2 linked regions of the Homo sapiens genome follow. The protein of the gene in region 2 interacts with the protein of the main gene of each other region in a pairwise test. Each region holds a gene or a part of one and is shown on either strand. Other genes may lie near its edges. The genes, in order: TMEM213 and MAL.

The links.
Region 1: the proteins of MAL (region 2) and TMEM213 interact in a two-hybrid assay, tested with the Homo sapiens proteins (one large-scale study listed by BioGRID).

What each region holds. Positions count from the first base shown.
Region 1 is NC_000007.14:138,800,672-138,804,126, forward strand, and holds part of TMEM213 (transmembrane protein 213 precursor), read left to right. Parts: intron 1-655; coding exon 656-727; intron 728-2,228; coding exon 2,229-2,398; 3' UTR 2,399-3,455.
Region 2 is NC_000002.12:95,051,795-95,054,509, reverse strand, and holds the end of MAL (myelin and lymphocyte protein), read right to left. Parts: intron 1,130-2,715; coding exon 1,055-1,129; 3' UTR 518-1,054; downstream 1-517. UniProt on the Homo sapiens protein: May be involved in vesicular trafficking from the Golgi apparatus to the cell membrane. Plays a role in the maintenance of the myelin sheath, and in axon-glia and glia-glia interactions.

The sequences.
Region 1 (3,455 bases), on a different chromosome or scaffold from region 2:
TGATGTTTCTTCTTCTTCTTCTTCTTCTTCTTCTTTTTTTTTTTTTTTTAGACGGAGTTTCACTCGTCACCCAGGCTGGAGTGCAATGGTGTGATCTCAGCTCACTGAACCTCCGCCTCCTGGGTTCAAGCAATTCTGCTGCCCCAGCCTCCCAAGTAGCTGGGATTACAGGCATGCACCACCACGCCCGGCTGCTTTTGTATTTTTAGTAGAGACAGGGTTTCATCATGTTGGCCAGGCTGTTCTTGAACTCCTGACCTCAGGTGATCTGCCCACCTCGGCCTCCCAAAATGCTGGGATTACAGGTGTGAACCACTGCACCTGGCCTCTTCCTCATCTTATAAGGACCCCGCCATATTGGATTAGGGCCCACCCATAGGACCTCATTTAAGCTTAACTGCCTCTTCGAATGTCCCATCTCCAAATACAATCACATTGGGGTTAGGACTTCAATATATGAAACTTGGGAGAGGGGAACATAATTCGGTCCATAACAGGGAGTTAGCTTTGTTGCAGAAAGCCTCAATATGCCCATGCGGGAGCTTCTATAATACTTTCATAATACTCACTACTGATTTACAAAAAACATTTCAAAATCTATGCCTGGGAATAGCTTTTGCCAGTGCCTCAGACTATCTCCTATCTTTTCTTCCAGAAGCAAGCAGCAGCAACAGCTCAAGCTTGACCGCTCACCACCCAGACCCTGGGACCCTGGAGCAGTGCCTCAGTAAGCTTCTCCTGCCAACTGCTCTAACCCCAGAACTGGCCCTCAGCCTGGGAGGGAAACAAAGGCCTCCCCGCTTTCCGTTGATTGGTGTCAAGTGGGCAAGGGCCTGCCTGGCCTTCCTGTGCACCAGTGTGGTTTGTCCCAGAACTATTTGCAGAGCAGGTCTGAAAGGCTTTCTTGGCTCTGATCCCCATCTAGGTGCACAATCTTTGACACAGATTGCTTTAATGACCCATCCCAGGTCAGCAGCTAACAATGCCCTAGGTTCAAATGCTTGAAGAAGTTTGGAGGTGGAAAGGCCATAAGAAATCATCTAGTCCAACTTCCACCCAATGCAACAGCTTGGTTTTGGCGTCCTTGGCATACATATTTCTTCTTCTTCTATGCACGTTTTTCCTCTTCTTGCCTACTTCTAGCCACAAGGCGCTCAGTAATTCATAGAGCAACCACTATTATGCATGTCTAGCTAATAGAAAGTTTTGCAGCTGGGCGCAGTGGCTCATGCCTGTAATCCCAGCATTTTCGGAAGATGAAGCAGGTGGATCACCTAAGGTCAGGAGTTTGAGACCAGCCTGACCAATATGGTGAAACCCTGTCTCTATTAAAAATAGAAAAAAATTAGCTGGATGTGGTGGCATGCGCCTGTAGTGCCAGCTACTAGGGAGGCTGAGACAGGAGAATTGCTTGAACCTGGGAGGCAGAGGTTGCTGTGAGCCGAAATTGCACCACTGCACTCCAGCCTGGGCAACACAGTGAGACTCCCTCTCAAAAAAAAAAGAGAAAGTTCCACTTTATTTTGTCTGGTTCCCTTTATCCTGCCCTCATTGAATGACCGAATGCATTAACTTAGGCACTTAAAACGAAGGATAGGCTGGGCGTGGTGGCTCATGCCTGTAATACCAGCACTTTGGGAGGCCCAGGTGGGTGGATCACTTGAGGCCAGGAGTTCAAGACCAGCCTGGCCAACATGGCAAAACCCAGTCTCTACTAAAAATACAAAACATTAGCTGGGTGTGGTGGTGCGTGCCTGTAATCCCAGCTACTTGGGAGGCTGAGGCAGGAGAATTGCTTGAACCCAGAAGGCAGAAGTTGCAGTGAGCTGAGATCATGCCATTGCACTCCAGCCTGGGCAACAGAGTGAGACTCTGTCTCAAAAAGAAAAAAAAAAAAAAGGAAGGGGTATTAGGGAATAATACATAGAGGTTAAGAGTATGGCTTCAGAGTCCTGCAGACTTGCGTTTGAGTTCTTCTGCCATCTTGTGATCTTGGGCAAATTACAGCCTCAGTTTCTTCATGTAAAATGGGAATAAAAGTCGCACCTGTCGCTTTGTGAGGAAGGCATAAGCTAACGTGTAAAAGCACGCAGCACAGTGCATGGCACGTAGTAGGCCTCATCAGTGTCAGCTACCGTGCTGTGATTGTTCTGTTAATATTAATGGTAGAGAAGCCTGGGCAGGGCTGGTGGTGCATGCCGTCGTCCTTGCTGTCCCTTCCCCACCAGACGTGGACTTCTGCCCACAAGCAGCCCGGTGCTGCCGCACAGGAGTGGACGAGTACGGCTGGATCGCGGCAGCTGTTGGCTGGAGCCTCTGGTTCCTCACCCTCATCCTGCTCTGTGTGGACAAACTGATGAAGCTGACTCCAGATGAGCCCAAGGACTTGCAAGCGTGAGACCCAGGCTCGGTGCACAAAATGGTGATCGCCACCAATTTGTGGCTAATGGGGAAGGGGAGTAAGGCTAACATGGTTTCTATTATTTAAGTCATTTTCACCTTTAAGCTTCAGTTACTTTTACAAGGGAAAGAAGAAAGAGCGGGAGAACCAAATAAGGCAAGCCAGTGCTGCCCTTGCATGTCACTCCCAAGGGCCCCTGGGCTGTGCCCAGGTAACTCCTCTCTCAAGATAGTCCCTCTGTAATGTATCCTGTTTTAACCTTTCTTCTAGGCACCAAGGGAGGTGCACAAGAAACTATAAGACTTAGTCTCATCATCAACATTTTCAGAAGCAAGTGCATAACCTTCTCACCAAAACCAGGTTATCTGCTTCTGTCCCTGGCTTGAGTCCTGGGCTTAACTGTCATTTCAGAATCTGAGAATCAGTCAGGTATGGTGGCTCATGCCTGTAATCCCAGCACTTTGGGAGGCAGAGGTGGGCAGATCACTCAAGGTCAGGAGTTCCAGATCAGCCTGGCCAACATGGTGAAACCCTGTCTCTACTAAAAATACAAAAATTAGCCAGGTGTGGTGGTGCACACCTGTAATCCCAGCTACTTGGGAGGCCGAGGCAGGAGAATCTCTTGAACCTCGGAGGCGGAGGTTGCAGTGAGCCAAGATCATGCCACTGCACTCCAGCCTGGGCGGCAGAGCAAGACTCTGTATCAGAAAAAAAAAAAAAAAAAAGAATGTGAGGATCAGGTGGGCATGGTGGCTCATGCCTGTAATCCCAGCACTTTGAGAGACTGAGACAGGAGGATCACTTTAGCCCAGGAATTCGAGACCAGCCTGGGCAAGATGGCAAGACCTTGTTTCTGTTTAAAAACTTTTTAAAGTTAAAAATAAAAATGTGAGAATCCCCTTGACACTCCCACCATCTTCACCCCCACCTCAGGTCCTTCTCCAGCTCTCCTTCTGGCTTCATCCTGTCTTCCACGGCTCTCCTGTCCCACCTATTCTCCCTGCCGGTGCCCAAGTTTTAGCCTTCACTGCCTTCCCCTAGAACACGCCAGGGA
Region 2 (2,715 bases):
GACTTGAAACATGGCATTCACCCCTTGTCACCGTACTTCCTTTCACTCTGTAATTTCCTCTCCTTTCTCTCCTATGGAGTGGCCCGAGGAAATTCTAAAATAATGTATTATCCACACAATGGGAACAAAGCAGACTGCCCAGGAACACGCTGATGAGCTTCACAATGAGTGAATGAAAACTTGTGCACCGTGTTTTCTTTTGGTGGAAGGAGGTTCTAGTGGGGCACAGACTGTTGTGTCTTGTAGGAAGGAGAAGCTGCCCCTGGCTGGCACTTGGCCAGTTTCCAGAGAGAGGGGAAGCCATCTGGGCAGGTAGCTGGGAGGGTGGGCTCCCCAGCACCGGGCTCTGAGAGTGCAGTGGCCTGGCACACACAGTGTCCGTCGTCTGAACTGCCACCTGATGCTGTCTCTTGAGATTCAGGTTAAGTCAAAGGATTCCTCAGAAAGAAAGCTGAATTGATGGTATTCTTGATGCTGAGGAATTCAACCCAAACCCAAAAAACACCCAACAAATGTATTGAACATTAAGACATTTTATAAAGTATTTCACAGGGTTATCGTCTTCCACCATGGACCTCTGGAAAGATCTGTTGGGTGAGTTTTAGTCCCCATGACATGCAGAACATCCATGAAGACTTAAAACATGGCACAAGATGGGGCGCTCGGGAGAGCTTGTGGACAATACCAACAGGTAGTTCTCGAGAGCTGCTCCAGGGGTCAGCAGAGGATCTTTCTTTCCTTCTCAGGTCACGGTCGCCACTTCCCACCCCCGAACAAGAAGGTCCCCTTTCACAAACAGGAGGTGACCCTAGCAGACAGCACAGCAGTTGGAGGTTAGACACAGCAAGCTCCCAACCCGGACGCGAAGGCACACGGGAGAGTAAACACAGCACCCACGAGCAACAGGGCAGGGCTTTTTTTTTTGGGCAGTGGGGGGGTGGTTGTTTTCTTTTTTCCACCATCAAGGGCATTTCTGTTTTCTAAAAAGTTATGCCGGAAAGTGGGGCGGCCAGTTAACACCATCTGGGTTTTCAGCTCAAGTTCTACTGCGGCTTTATGAAGACTTCCATCTGATTAAAGAGAACACCGCATGGACCACGTAGAGCAGAGTGGCTATGTAGGAGAACACCTGGAACCAAGAGAAATGGCCGTTAATGGGTTTGTGTAGGGAGGGCGAGGCACAGCGTCTGCACTGCATCCAGCCCCACGTGGCGTAGGGGGGGCCAGACCCAGAGAGCTTGGGCTGTCATTGCTTCTCACCCTCACATGGACGCCCTCCCTGCTGAGCCCAGGTGTGCACCAAATCCTCTCAGTACAGAGCTCCATGTGACCTAACAGTCTCCTGGATCTGGTGTGGAAGGTAAGACTCTCCACTATCACCCAGCATCACATTCGTCTCAGCTTGAGGTTTCGGCTGACTTGAGATGGAGTCCTCAAAGACCCCTCCAATGAAAGCATCTCAGGCAGGTAACTCTCCAGGGACAACTTCCTCCCCCAACACCAGTGAGACCAGCGCCCTCCAGCTGTGGTCCTGGTAGCTCGGTTGAGAGATTGTAAATACCTGGGTTTGCTGGCCCTGGTGAAAGTCTCCATGCTGCCTGGACATTCTCACCCTATCATTATTTTGTTTTAGGATTCTTAATATCACAGGTGTGGCTGAGAGAGCCAGACTTCATAGGAAGTGAGGGACAGAGAAGGGGAGAAGGGATTTTGAGCTTTTGTCTAAAGGAGGGGCCTTACTGTTGGGACCATCCAGTCAGCCACTGTGGCCCTTGGAGCGATGGCCCTGCTTTCTGGGGACTTGCTGTGTCCTCCTGGGCACTGTCTGCTCCCATCACCCTACTCCCTGAAGGCCTGCCTGCTGCCAAGTCCAATCTCTGCACCTGGTTTTGTGACCTTGGTTAGGGGTCAAGAGTTTCCAGCTCAGGCACGACGTCCATTTAGGGCGGCTACGCCTCTGTGACTCCTGAAAATGCTCATCAATCCCAGCCCTCAGGGTGCCTGCTCTCCTGCCCCTACACCTGGCCAAGCCCTTTCCCTCATTGCCTGGAGGCGGTGAGTAAGCTGAATTATTGAATAACACATTTAAGAGAACGTATCTGGGCAGGAGCAGTCAGACACCAGTGGGCAGCCCTCCATAAAAGGTGGGCATTCCAGACCAATGAAAGCCTTTGGCAGAAGCACCTTGGAAGTCCCCAGCAGGAAGAGCAGTGGAGACTCATTTTCCAAGTGGGGTCAAGAAATGGCCCACTGGGAACACGTAGAGCTGGGCACGAATGGGCAAATTTTGGCTTCAGAAAGCCCTCTCCCTAAACTGTAGCCATCACTGCCCACCATTGTATAATCTAGAAACCTCCAGATTTCTCCAGAAATTTCCATCTCGCCCCAGGCGACTTCCACCCATCCCTGGGGTCCCTTTGGCAAAGCAGCTCCGCCACCCACAAAGGAGAGAGGGAGGAGCTCAGCTTGGAACAGACCCTAATTAGTAGCCACACAGTGGATGTGAGGCAGGCTGGCTGCTTCCAAAACCAGGCTGTGTGAGAGAGGGTGTGAGGTGCCTCCCTGTACCCAAGTATCCCCTGGACTGGGCATGCTGTGGTTGGGCGGGTCTGGGATTGAATCCTGAGTAACGAACTTCTTTCTCTCTCACAGACGGATGCAGTTGATACCGTGAGTTGAAAGGTGTGACTTTACATCGAACGCCGTGCAGATTTC